Linked DNA regions of Homo sapiens. The protein of the gene in region 2 interacts with the protein of the main gene of each other region in a pairwise test. Each region holds a gene or a part of one and is shown on either strand. Other genes may lie near its edges.

Region 1 (3,500 bases), on a different chromosome or scaffold from region 2:
GGCCTGTAGTCCCGGCACTTTGGGAAGCTGAAACAGGCGGATCATGAGGTTAGGAGTTCGAGACCAGCCTGGCCAACGTGGTGAAACCCCGTCTCTACTAAAGATACAAAAAATGGCCGGGCGTGGTGGCTTACGCCTGTAATCCCAGCACTTTGGGAGGCCGAGGTGGGCGGATCACGAGGTCAGGAAATCGGGACCATCCTGGTTAACACAGTAAAACCTCGTCTCTACTAAAAATACAAAAAAATTAGCCGGGTGTGGTGGCGGACGCCTGTAGTCCCAGCTACTCAGGAGGCTGAGGCAGGAGAATGGCATGAACCCGGGAGGCGGAGCTTGAAGTGAGCCAAGATTGCGCCACTGCACTCCAGCCTGGGCCACAGAGCAAGACTCCGTCTCAAAAACAAACAAACAAACAAACAAACAAAAAAAAACCAAAAGATTAGCTGGGCCTGGTGGCACGTGCCTGTAATCCCAGCTACTTGGGAGGCTGAGGCAGGAGAATCACTTGAACCTGGGAGGCGGAGGTTGTAGTGAGCCAAGATCATGCCATTGCACTACAGCCTGGACTACAGAGCGAGACTCTGTCTCAAAAAAATAAAAAATAAAAAATAAAAATAAAAATAAAAAAATTAACCCATCATGATCAAGTAGGCTTTTTTGCTGAGATTCAAGGCTGGCTCAACATACACAAATCAATAAATGTAATTTGCCACATCAATAGAAGTAAAAGCAGGCCAGGCGCGGTGGCTCCTGCCTGTAATCCCAGTACTTTGGGAGGCCGAGGCGGGAGGATCACGAGGTCAGGAGATCGAGACCATCCTGGCTAACATGGTGAAACCCTGTCTCTACTAAAAATACAAAAAAAATTAGCCGGGTGTGGTGGTGGGCACCTGTAGTCCCAGCTACTTGGGAGGCTGAGGCAGGAGAATGGCATGAACCTGGGAGGCAGAACTTGCAGTGAGCTGAGATCGCACCACTGCACTCCAGCTTGGGCGACTGAGCAAGACTCTATCTCAAAAATAAATAAAAATAAATAAATAAATAAATAAATAAATAGAAGCAAAAGCAAAAACCACATGATCATCTCAATAGATGCAGAAAATGTTTTCTTTTTTTGAGACAGGGTCTTGCTCTGTTGTCCAAGCTGGAGTGCCATGGTGTAATCTCAGCTCACTGCAACCTCCACCTCCTGGGCTCAAGTCATCCTCCAACCTCAGCCTCCCAGGTAGCTGGTACTACAGGCACGGCCACCATACCCGGCTAAAATTGTTATATTCTTTGTAGAGACGGGGTTTCGCCATGTTGCCCAGGCTGGTCTTGAACTTCTGAGCCCAAGTGATCTGCCAGTCTCAGTCTCCCAAAGTGCTGGGATTACAGGAGTGAGCCATCGCACCCGGCCAAAAAGTAATAAAAAAAGTTCTGAATAAGTAAGTTCTCATGCTCTGTGTGAGTAAGCATTTATCCAAGGCAGCGCTTTGAAAATATGCACATTTCTTACAGCATCTCTCAAAAACATGCGAAGGCCCACATAAAGAAAACCACCTCACTCGTTTTACAAGTATCATAAACCATTCTGTGTACTATAGCTTTGAGTCACACATTGCTTTCTGAAGATCATACTTACTGTTCAACCTGGAAACCTGAAGAAGTCCCCTTCCTTTAGTACTTTTTCTAGTCCTTATTAAAAAGAAACAATTGTCCTATAATCTTTCTAGTCCCTTCTAGAAACAACTCTGAGATGGTTCCTATTTCAAAGTTAAACAAACAAAAAACTTATCAAAATATAATTTAAAAGCCATATTGGAAAAACACAAACAGCCTTCCAGAGACTTACTTTTCCTCTTTGCCCTGAACCTCCACTATATGAATGGCTGCCATTTGAATTCAGATTAAAGACGAAACCGACTGACAAAAAAGCTATTAATTAATGAATGTGCAGAAATGAGTTTTTGTTTTTCTTTCTTTAAAAACTTTTTTCAGCCTGGGCAACATAGCAAGAACCCGTCTCTACAAAAAATAAAAAATATTAGCTGGGTATGGTAATGCGCCTGTAGTTCCAGCTACTCGGGAGGCTGAGGTGGAAGGATTGCTAGAGCCTGGATGGTCAAGGCTGCAGTGAACCGTGATTGCACCACTGCACTCCAGCCTGGGCAACAGAGCAAGACCCTGTCTCAAAAAAAACAAACGAAAAACAAAAAAACCCTGGCCGGGTGCAGTGGCTCACGCTTGCAATCCCAACACTAGGAGGCCGAGGCAGACGGATCACCTGAGCTCAGGAGTTCGAAACCAGCCTGGCCAACATGGTGAAACCCCGTCTCTACTAAAAATACAAAAATTAGCTGGGCATGGTGGCATGCGCCTGTAATCCCAGCTACCTAGGAGGCTGAGGCAGGAGAATCGCTGGAACCCGGGAGGCAGAGGCTGCAGGGAGCCAAGATCGCGCCACTGTACTCCCGCCTGGGTAACAGAGACTCTGTCTCAAAAAAAAAAAAAAAAAAAAAAAGCCCACAACCAGACTTTTTTTTCGTTTTTTCAAATAAAACAATATGCTGTCTCAGCCCGCTCTTTTAGGGATTTTAAAAGGTGTGACCCACCTTGCTAAGATCTTTGGCAGTCACACTATCGTCATCCCGGCAGGGCAAGCGATGGACGAACGCTAACATCTGATACTTGGCTCTGATGAATTCCGCTTTATTGGGACTGGTTCAAAAACAAAAAAGAAAACAGTTCACTCGTTCAGATACAACAATCCCCATTCTTTGTACTGTAAAAAGAAGAGGAAGTGACCCACATCCCCCACTTGAGAATAAAATGAACAATGCTCAAGTAAGTTTCAGCAAGGTTTAAGACCTGCAGTTTGAAAACATACATTAGTTATTATAATGGCTGGGACTCCAGAGTACCTGCTTTTTATAGTAGCCCTCTTCTCTGTGTAATTGTCTGAACTGATTTAGCAACTTTGGGAGAAAGCAGCATTTAGTCCCATCTTATAAGTGAGGCAACAGGCAGACGGGTGCCCAGACCTAGATTTCTGGTCTGATCGCCTCTTATTTGAGTATAAGTTTAAATCTGATTACATTTACAGACTCCAAGCCATGGTTTCCAACTGAGGAAGCCACTTACTCCTGCTGGGTGGCCATGCTAAACAGATGGTCCTGCCCCACCCCATTCTGCATTTCTAATAGCAAAGAACCTGATGCACAACTAGGGTAACCCCCTCCTCTGCTGCCCTTGCGGAGACTGACCAAAAATAGCTGCACTCCTTTCAGTGGGCCCCATTTGTTATGAAGAAATAAAAGTATTTATAAACATTCCACTCACTGTACTTTATCCTGTGGATTAGCTTTACGTCTTCCACTCATAATAGACGCAGGGTCCAGCAAAGAATGCTCCCATATAGAGTTAGCACCGTTATTATACAAGGTCTCAACCATCTAAAACCAAGCAGGATGACATAAGACTTTAATTTCTTTTCACAAATATTCAATGGGGATCAGTGA
Region 2 (3,500 bases):
TGCTTTATTCTCTTCATGGCACTTGCCTCTATCTGAGCTGCCAGCAGGCTTAGTGGTTTATGATTTGTCTTTGTCTTATGCTCCTAAAACAGGAGCTCCCTAACAGCCTCCCCACACCCTGGAGCCGCCTGGCCCCCACACAAAGGGTGCGGGGAGAGGAGCCTGCCCGGAGCATGTTAGGGGTTTCTGGAGGCTGCCAGAGGCTCTCCTCTCCCGGGATGGCCCACCTCACCTTTTTCAGTCCTTCCACTTGTTGCAGCTCCATCCTGAGTAGAGAGGAAGTGTCTTTCTCGTGCTGTAATTCGCGCTGAAGAGCCTGTCTTTGCTCTTTTTCTGATTTCAATTCTTTCTCCAGGCTTGAGCTGTTTTCCCAAAATGAACTTGAGTTAGTCTCAGTGGGAGACTTTCACGGAAGATTCACAACCCAATTCACCGCCCAGGAAACAGGGAAGTCTCTGAATTGCCTCTTGAGCATCTAAAGCCTTCGGCAACGCTTCCCTCTCCTCCAGGGTCACCTGCCCTTCCACAAGAAAGAGCAGGAACCAGGGAGAGAAAAGCCTGCAGGCACACACTTGACACTTACGCAGGGGAGAAGGAAGAGAGCTCTAGAACACTTAGACCACATAAGCAGAACCCTCCCGACATGGAGACCTGAGGAAAGGAAGCTCAAAATTCGTTCTTTTCTTTTTTTGAGACAGGGTCTAGCTCTGTCACCCCAGCTGGAGTGCAGTGGCGCAACCTCAGCTCACTGCAGCCTCGACCTCCTGGGCTCAAGTGATCCTCCCGCCACAGCTTCCCAAGGTGCAGAGATTACAGGCATGAGCCACCTCACTGGCCAATTCATTCTGCTTTTTGTTTTTTTTTGAGACGGAGTCTCGCTCTGTCGCCCAGGCTGGAGTGCAGTGGCACAATCTTGGCTCACTGCAACCTCTGCCTCCTGGGTTCAAGCTAGTCTCCTGCCTCAGCCTCCCTAGTAGCTGGGATTACAGGCACACGCCACCACGCCCAGCTAATTTTTTGTATTTTTAGTAGAGATGACGTTTCACCATGTTGGCCAGGCTGGTCTTGAACTCCTGACCTCGTGATCTCCCTGCCTCGGCCTCCCAAAAGTGCTGGGATTATGGGCGTGAGCCACCGCGCCCGGCCTCATTCTGCTTTCTACAACCTACAGCCAGACTGACAATGAAGGATCCTGGAGGGAGAAGGCCAGGAGGGAGCCTCAGCCTGAAGCTGACTCTGCCCTTTACCAGCTGAGTGGCCCTGGGGGCACTGCTGGACCGCCTGGAGTCTGCTCTCTCTTTGTGGGAATAAAGATGTCTCTTCTCTCTTCTCTCAACATCAGGCTTTTAACTTGGCATATATATTATCTCAAAAAATCTATAGGCCAGGCACGGTGGTTCACACTTGTAATCCTAGCATTCTGGGAGGCCGAGACGGGTGGATCACTTGAGGCCAGAAGATTGAGACCAGCCTGGCCAACATGGCAAAACCCTGTCTCTAATAAAAATACAAAAATTAGGCTGGGCGCAGTGGCTCACGCCTGTAATCCCAGCACTTTGGGAGGCCGAGATGGGAGGATCACGAGGTGAGGAGATCGAGACCATCCTGGGTTAACACAGTGAAACCCCGTCTCTACTAAAAATACAAAAAATTAGCCAGGTGTGGTGGCTGATGCCTGTAGTCCCAGCTGCTCGGGAGGCTGAGGCAGGAGAATGGCGTGAACCCGGGAGGCAGAGGTTGCAGTGAGCCGAGATCGCGCCACCGCACTCCAGCCTGGGCAAGAGAGTGAGACTCGGTCTCAAAAAAAAAACAAAACAAAACACAAACACAAAAATTAGCCGGGTGTGTTGATGTACACCTGTAGTCCCAGCTACTCAGGAGGCTGAGGCACAAGAATCGCTTGAGCCCAGGAGGTGGGGGTTGCAGTGAGCTGAGACTGCACCACTGCACTCCAGCCTGGATGACAGAGTGAGACTTAAAAAATAAAAAATCTGTAGATGAACTGTGCACAAAATTATATGAAGCTTGCATCAGCAAAGGCTAGGTGAAAGGTGACTTTCTGTTCAACACTGACAAAGCTGTTTCTTTTTAGAAAGGGTGGTTAAGGGTGATACAGGCTGTGACCTGGTACCATGGTTTGAGAGTGGCCAGATCTTCTGGAGGCGAGCTGGACCACGTGAGGAGCCCTGTGGGGAGGGAGCTCCCTAGGGATAACATACGAACCCTGCAGGGGTGAGTGGTGAAGCAGGATACCACCTGCCCCCCCGCCCCCCCTCCTCCCGTTCGTGCTGAAGCAGGATACCACCTGTCCCCAGTTCTTCCCAGTCCCTCCTGAGCCACACCCCAGCCCAGGCTCCCTGCAGGGCCCCTACCATTGCTCGTGCAGCTGGGAGAGCTGCAGCTGCAGGGCGCCGATCCTCCCGCCCAGCTCCTGCTGCAGCTTGTGGCTCCGCTCCTCAGCCCCCTGCCTCGCCCGCTCCGAGTGCTGCAACCTGGATGCGACACCAGCAAGAGTGCAAATGAAGCAAATCTTTGTAAGGAAAGGATGACTTTTGCTGGCTGAAATTCATTTTTAAAATTACCATACAGTAAAATTAACTCTTGTGAGTTTTAACACGTGGAGATTCAGCTCCACCACAATCAGAATACAGGACGGTCCCACCACTCCCAAAACTCCCCACCTCAGCCCCTGGCAACCACTCATCTGTCCTGCAACAATATGGCTTTGGCTTTTTGAGAATGTAATCTCAATGTAATTATACATTATATAACCTTGAGACTGACTTTTTCTCAGAATAATGTCTTGGAGATCAATCCAAGTTTCCATGTGTATCAATGGTTCATGCCTTTTGTTTCCTCTCTGAACGTCCTGAAAGGGCAGTGGTTCATTCCTTTCTACGGCTGAGTCATACTTCACCGCACAGACGTACCACTTTGTTTATCCATCACCCAATGCAGAACATTGGGATTGCTTCTAGCTTTTGGCAGTTATGAACGGAGCTGCTATAAACATATGTACTAGTTTTGGTGTAGACATAAGTTTCATTTCTATTTGGATCATATGGTAAGAGGACGTTTAGCTTCTTGAGAAACTGTTTTCCTGAGTGGTTGCACCATTTTGCATTCCTACCAATAAAGTATGAGAGATCCATTAGCTCCGTGTCCTCATCAGCACTTGGTATTGTCATTAAAGAAACGGTAGCTGGCCAGGTGTGGTGGCTCATGCCTATAATCCCAGCACTTTGGGAGGCCTAGGTGGGCAGATCACCTGAGGTCGGGAGTTCGAGACCAGCCTGATCAATATGGAGAAACCCCATCTCTACAAAAATACAAAATTAGCCGGGCATGGTGGCAGGCACCTGTAATCCCAGCTACTTGGGAGGCTGAGGCAGGAGAATTGCTTGAACCTGGGAGGTAGAGATTGCGGTGAGCTGAGATCGCACCATTGCACTCTAGCCTGGGCAATGAGAGCGAAACTCTGGCTCAAAAAAAAAAAAAAA
Region 3 (3,500 bases), on a different chromosome or scaffold from region 2:
ATCTTTTGCCCTTTAAATACATAGAAGCTTTAAGATTTATTTCACATACGTCTTTATAAGAGTAAAATAAACTACTATTTTTAAGCAGTAGTATCTTTCGCATTAAGCAATGAGTGATTCAAAAAGAACTAATTTCAACTGATTATCCCAATTAGTAAATTAAACTTGTCAAGGATCATGACCAATATGTAAAAAAGATGATCACATTAAATTCTTATGGGTGAATCACCAACACAACTTGGCTGGCCTTATTACTGAGCTCCAGGTAATAAAGCAGACTGCAGACCACAAGAAAAAGTTGATCAAAACAATTTGCTTCTGATCCCTAATATGCATTTCCTGTTAATTTTTCTTTCTCGAAATCAGTACTATCACAGCAAAAACAACAGCCAATCTTTACTGAAGGTTAACTATGTTGTCAGATAGTGGTGCTAAGAATTTCATACATATTAACTCATTTAATAAATGCCTAGAAAGATCCTAATAACTTATGAAATTTACTTTTTCTAATTAAAGTGAATTTTTAAAATGTTTCTTGAAAACAAAAGCCATCCCTAGGACAACTCAAGAAATCAGAATTAATGGGAAAATATTTTCAATGAAACATCTGAAGAACATGAATAAAATGCATATACATATTTTAAATGAAATCTAGCAACTTGATTTATATCAGTAGTCCAAAAGAAAAAATAAAATCCATTTTTCCACAAAAAGCACATTCCCCTAATTTGGACTTACCTTGACAAATGGGAAACATAGAATTTTAATTTTAGAAAAAAAAAAAAAAACTAAAGCTGTGATTTTTATCTTTTTTCATATCAATTTAATATATGTGAAAATTAAATAATTTGAATTCTATGTTTACTAAAATTCCTCAAAGCACTACACTCAGAAAGTAAATCATTTCCAACAAAGGAGGTAATATGGCAACACAGCAGAGTAGAAGCATCAGTACCTGAAGAAGAAAGCTAAGGCTCCTGATCAAGCTCTGAGATCTATCTATGAACCTGGGCAGGTAACTTATCTGAGCCCAAATATCTTCATCTATTTCAGTGTAGAATTGGATCAAATAATCCTGGTAGATAAAGGAATGTACTTGTCTACTAGAAGAAAAGCCAACAGGGTAACTTAACCAGTATTCACTATCTCATGAAATAGCTTGTACTCTGGAATCAGTCTCAAATCTTGGCTTCACCAGTTACTAATAAAGTGACCTGAAGATCTAAGTCTCAATTTCTCATCTAAAAATGGAGATGACAGGTCAGGCACAGTGGTTCTTGTAATCTCAGAACTTTGGAAGGCCAAGACAGGACGGTTGCTTGTGCCCAAGATGTTTAAGCAACAACCAAAAGCAACATAGCGAGACCCCATCTCTACAAAAAATTTAAAAATTAGCAGAGTGTGGTGGCATACGCCTGTGGTCCCAGCTACTCCTGAGCCAGGAAGGTTGAGGCTATAGCGAACTGTGATTGTGCCACTGCACTCCAGCCTGAGCAACAGAGAAAGATCCTCTCTCTCTCTCTCTCTCACACACACACACACACACACACACACACACACACACACGAAAGGGCAAGGGGAGAAAACTGTACCTATCTCCTAAGGTAGTCATGAGAATTAAAGAGCTTAGCACCATATCTGGCACTTACCAATTAAGACTGGCTCTTACTATTATAATCATCTCTAGGACATTTCCTAATACTGGCCAAATATTTTGATCATATTGTATCAGCACAAGCACTATCACTAAGAACAAAAAGCAATGATTGTTGAGTTTGGGTTTAAAAGCTTATTGTTTTGAGTGATTTTCCTCAAAAAAAGTAAACATCTATAAATCCTGTAGTATAATTTTGTTTTACTTGTATTATCACAATAATAGAAATTAAATATTCCAAGACATGTCAAAAGAAAAGGTTTAAGATTATGTAAGCACTATTTTCCTCTTTCAATTTATTCACAGACAGTTGTGGAAGGGGGGCAGGGAGGAAAGTCCAGATGCTTTTTAAATTCCCAAATGACTTCTTAATTTAACATGAATTATGAAAGAAACAGTTTCTGAGATTAAAAATGAGACTGCTACTTCAATAGCATATAATGAATTGAACTGTTATAAATTCCATGAATTAGTTACAAATTCCATCACTTCTTTAAAAACCTTCAACATTTATTATACATATTAAATACATTTATTTCATACATATATGTGATAAATTATATTTATTCTTGTTGGAATGGAAGGATGATTGCCAGCTTCAACACCTCCGGGCAAATCCTGATACTAAGTGCTAAGAATACAGATACAAATGGACCAAAGAGATGGCACACAGCCTCTACGAGCCACGGCATGATTATTCTGAGGGTTGTGGGGAGGGAAGAGGGAAGAGGAGAATGTCTCAAAGAGAAGTAAAATATAAGTCAGATTTTCAGTGCTGAATACAAGTCCAGTAGATGGGCAAGGGGAATAGGATAGGACAGTCAGGGAATAAGGGTCTGGCACTAACAAAACTAACAAAGGAGACAGTAACAGAAAAGCAGGCTGGAGAGGCAGACTGTGACAGACCATTAAAAGCCTTCTTTAAAAGAGAAAATGTTGCTTAAAGTTTATCCTGAAGAGATGGTGAGATCTACATTTTAGAAAGTATAGATGTATTGTAATGTAGTCATTTAAAAATGACTCCCAAGGCAATGAGAACTTCACTGGAGACTAGAGGCTGGTTAAACGATTACTGTCTGATCTAATGCCAAGGTCATGCACTGGGAATGAGGGGATGGAGGCATATATACGTATGGAAAACATTCAGAACAGCTTCATTTATATTTATTCACAAACACACAATTATTCCAGTTAATCTTCAGAGCATTCATTTGAAATGGTTCTTATCCCTACTTTACAGATATATAAAAAAAAGAGGCTGAGAGAGATTAATTTTGTCAAATACACAAAAAGTAACAGAGCTAGTATTCAAACTCTGGTGTGTCTGACTCTAACACCTAACTCCACTACATCTGAGATACACTTAGAAGCTGAAATGGATAGGGAGTAGGGAGATGGGAATAAAGGTTAAAGCACAGCAAAGGATCTCTAAGAAGTGAACAATCCTGGGTGCAGTAAACCACCATGGCACGTGTATACCTATGTAACAAACCTGCATGTTCTGCACATGGTATCCCAGAACTTAAAGTTTAAAAAAAAAGAAGTGAACAATCCAAACAGAATAATAATGTTTAATCTCTGAACCCTTCTCTTACTTTCACAAAGACAAAACTGAAGTTTCTCTAAAGCACTGCTATTGAAATGAGCATTTGCTATTGCTTTGTGTTCTATTATTTTCCCCTATATTATTTTTGTTATCATTTCCTCCTCTGTTTTGTTACTATGCCAGAATTTAATACTTATTCAGCTCCTTACAGGACTTGGAAAAAAAAAAACAGCACATAAATCAAAATAAACAGAAACTTGAATTTACTATAGTACCCATATTCCTGTGTATTTTTTTAAA
Region 4 (3,500 bases), on a different chromosome or scaffold from region 2:
AGGGATGGGGCTGGGTGGCAGGTAGTAGTGGGGATGGGCCCTGAGTGTGGGGTAAGAAATGTGTCGTTAATTTGGGAGGCAATAGGGAAGATACTTCAGCAGGAAGAGGTATAAGAGCAGCTCTGGAAAAAAGAATACTCCAGAAATGAAGAGGATGGGTGGCAGAGAGGAAAGAGAGCCTTGTGCTGCAGCCTGGGTGGGAGATCGGGGGCCTGTGATACGGGGACAGGAAAGGGCGATGGGAAAGTGGCGAGGGAGGAGGACTGCAGTGCAGCTGACCAGGTGTGAGGTGCCAGGGAGGGGCCTGGGTGGCCAGGGACCACACTACTGTCCACAGAGGGTCCCAGGAGGAGCTGCTGCTGGAAGGAGGCTGGTGGTCCCTTGGGAAAAGCCGATGTGTGATGTGGGAGCAGCGGGGCAGGTGGTTCTCTGGAGGGTGCTGTTCAGAGGCGCGGGCTTGGGAGAGTGTGGCTAGCCTGACCCTGAAGCTGGGGGTCGGTGGGGTCCCCGAGGGAGAGCGCTACAGAGGTCGGGGAGAGGCCTGGGCAAGGGTGGAAGAAGAACTGGGAAGGCGGCCATGGGGTCCAGAGGGAAGGCAGCGCCTCAGTGACTGCCATCAGTGCAGGGAGCTGGGGCAGGGAAAGTGAGCTGAGCCACTAACTAGGCCACTGGTGTCACTGGTGGGGACAGGACGTGGACTGAAGTCTGGTGAAGTGAGAAGGGGGAGGAGGCAGGGGCAGAAGGATGGGGAGAGGGCAGACTTAGGGTCTAGGCCCCCTGGCTGCAAAGGGAGAGGGTGGATGGCAGGCCCTAGAGGAGGGTGAGGAGGAGCAGTGGCTGCTCAGGAGCTGAAGGGAGACAGACCACAGGTGTGGCATGTAATGGAGCACCACAGCCCAAGCAGAGGTGAGGTGAGTCATGGAGAGAAAGGAGTGGAGAAGGTGCAGTGGAGTGGGGGGGATAGAGGTGGTGCAGAGAGGGAGGTCCCGGAGCTGGCACTGCCAGCCCGTGTCTGTGTGGGCAGGAGCCCCAGGGAGGTTTGCAGTAGTAGCTTCAAGAGGGGAGGGCTCTCTGGTCTGATCCCGCAGCAGGTCTGGTCTTTCAGACCCGTCCCTATATCATCAGCCTGACTGCAGGAGCAGTGGCCGGCATTCCTAGGGCCCCTGGGGGCTGCGTCCCACCCTCCGGGCACCCTGATACCTTGGTAAGCTTTCTCACGCTTCTTCTTCTCGGTGTCGATGTACTGCTCAGACGCCGCCTTGATCTTCTGCACCCAGGCGGTCCTACGGGAGAAGCAGGGGCAGCCGTTGGCCGCATCCCACCCTCACAGGTCAGCGTGGAGCCCCAGAGCTCTGCACATGTTCTTCAGTCTTTTGCTAACCTCAACTTTCACAAGTTTCCTATCAAAGACCTGATATTAGTCAACTGAAAGATGCTTATGCTAATGGAGTATGAGAGCTGGTAGTGACCCTTCTTGGCTGACCACAAAATGCCAGGCACTCGCAAGGCGCTGGGACCTGGAGACAGATGATGCATTGGCCCCACGGATGATACCTGTCACGAGGGGTTCTAGCGCACACAGAGGAGCAGCAGCACCCCCCGGGTTGGCGCCGCGGAGGCACTGTTGGAGCTGCAGCCTGAAGGAAGCTGGGAACAGCGGGGATGGCACCCACACAAGGGCGCCTGAGGGGCGAAAGTCTGCAGGTGGAGGGACGAGGGCTGAGGCCTGTGGCCCAAGGAGGCCTCGGAAACCAGCAAAGCACAGTGGGCTGTCGCCTGCGGGCAGCCCCTGCAGGGACTGTAGCAGGGCCTCAGGTGCTGATCTGCCATTTGGGAAGGCTGCTGAGTGGTGTGGGGAGAGACTAGAAGCCGGGAAGCATGTTAGGAGGCAGCTGCAGTGACCAAGGCCTACCATGGGACTGGAGCAGAGGGGATGTGTTAAGAGAGGTTCAGGATACAGAATTAGTGGGGCTTAAGCACGGCTGGAGATGGGTTTATGGCAGAGGGAGACGTCCAGGCCTTCTCCCAGAGTTCAAGGCAGGCCACACATGGTCAGGACTGACCTCTCATTAATGTTGTCTGTTCGGAGGGTGTAGACCCGATCAATGTGGGAAATGTGGAAGACAGGCTCATCGCTGGAAGGGTCTGTGGGCAGTTTCACCAAGACTTCATTCAGGAAAATGGGCTGAAAGAATTAGGGCCAAAACACAGGCTGTGAGATGGGCTAGAACACTCCACCCGCCTATGTCCAGAGAGAGTTCTGTTTGTTCTGAAGAGCCTTGTTGAGAAGGAGAAAGGGGTCTAGCGTCTAAGGTCTTCTACACAGAACAAATGAAACCTCCATTTGTAAGAACAATGAAGCCTCCATTTCTGGAAAAGTCATTATCGAGGTGGGTCAGGTGTTGGGACTGGGTGGGGACAGGAGCTCCAAGCGCCCATGACGGCTGGTGCAAAAGGCTCTCTGCTAGCAACGCTGGTGCTGTGCTGGGGCTCGGCTTACAGAGACCCAATGCTGAATGCACACAGTGGTGAGCCCAGGTGTCACGCTGGCCAGGAGGAAGCCAGAATCTCAGCTGGAATCTGGCTGATGGCCTGTGGCAGGTGGGGAGTGCCCAGCTGCATGGGGCCCTTCCCGTGGGAAGCAGCAAAGGAAGCACGAGCGATCTGGAACCAGGTGAGGAGGGTCCCGTAAGGCCAGCTCAGGGTCTGCCAGGAAGGCCTTAAGATAGAGGCAACACCTCATTAGGCCCCTGATGCTACCCCCAGACGCGTGATACTCACCGTTTTATACATTTTGAATTGAGCATTGGACTTCGAGCTGAAAAGTTTCTCAGAGCCAGAGGAAACAGCAAACTGCTTGACCATGTAGGTAAGAAGCAGGAAGTCATTGAAGAGGAATCCGTGCAGTTCCTTGTTGCTCTTGGTCTTGTATAATTTCCCACTGTGTAAGAGCTTCCGGGGCCCCAGGCAGTTGGTGAGAGAGTTGAAAATAAGTTGCTTAAAGAGAAAGAAAATTTCACTTTTTAAATCCCGGCACAAACCATCCAGTGCCCCTGAGAGGCCAGTGCCCTGGGCCTGAGGATACTGTGGTGGAGTTTTCTAGGTGGGAATGTGGCTAGAATCATTCACTTTGCATGAAAGATCCTTAAATACATTACTCTTCAGAGTCCAAACTGGCCCAGTGAAAATCATTACTTCTAGCCACAGAACACTGATTCTACCAGCTGAATTCAAAGAACTCAAAACAAAAAATCCCAGTGTTCTCTCCTTAGGAGAAAGGAAGATGACAATCCAAGAAGGAATGCCCTTCATGCCTGCAATCCCAGCACTGTTGGGAGACAGAGGCGGGAGGATCACTTGACGCCAGGAGTTCAAGACCAGCCTGGCCAACATGGTGAAACCCCAGCTCTACTAAAAATACGAAAATTAGCTGGGCATCGTAGCAGATGCCTGTAGTCCCAGCTACTTGGGAGATGGAGGCCAGAGAATCGCTCCAACCC

The links.
Region 1: the proteins of RUFY1 (region 2) and GIT2 interact in a two-hybrid assay, tested with the Homo sapiens proteins (one large-scale study listed by BioGRID and IntAct).
Region 3: the proteins of RUFY1 (region 2) and RAB3IP interact in binary tests that used the Homo sapiens proteins (3 or more experiments, as listed by UniProt).
Region 4: the proteins of RUFY1 (region 2) and ITSN2 interact in a two-hybrid assay, tested with the Homo sapiens proteins (one large-scale study listed by BioGRID).

The regions. Positions count from the first base shown.
Region 1 is NC_000012.12:109,986,369-109,989,868, forward strand, and holds part of GIT2 (ARF GTPase-activating protein GIT2), read right to left. Parts: intron 3,435-3,500; coding exon 3,322-3,434; intron 2,701-3,321; coding exon 2,595-2,700; intron 1-2,594. UniProt on the Homo sapiens protein: GTPase-activating protein for ADP ribosylation factor family members, including ARF1.
Region 2 is NC_000005.10:179,595,554-179,599,053, reverse strand, and holds part of RUFY1 (RUN and FYVE domain-containing protein 1), read right to left. Parts: intron 3,151-3,500; exon of another isoform or gene 2,493-3,150; coding exon 2,373-2,492; intron 2,233-2,372; exon of another isoform or gene 2,093-2,232; intron 802-2,092; exon of another isoform or gene 699-801; intron 363-698; coding exon 233-362; intron 1-232. UniProt on the Homo sapiens protein: Activating adapter involved in cargo sorting from early/recycling endosomes. Regulates retrieval of proteins from endosomes to the trans-Golgi network through interaction with the dynein-dynactin complex.
Region 3 is NC_000012.12:69,745,360-69,748,859, reverse strand, and holds part of RAB3IP (rab-3A-interacting protein isoform alpha 1), read right to left. Parts: intron 1-3,500. UniProt on the Homo sapiens protein: Guanine nucleotide exchange factor (GEF) which may activate RAB8A and RAB8B. Promotes the exchange of GDP to GTP, converting inactive GDP-bound Rab proteins into their active GTP-bound form.
Region 4 is NC_000002.12:24,207,037-24,210,536, forward strand, and holds part of ITSN2 (intersectin-2), read right to left. Parts: intron 2,998-3,500; coding exon 2,782-2,997; intron 2,186-2,781; coding exon 2,064-2,185; intron 1,284-2,063; coding exon 1,201-1,283; intron 1-1,200.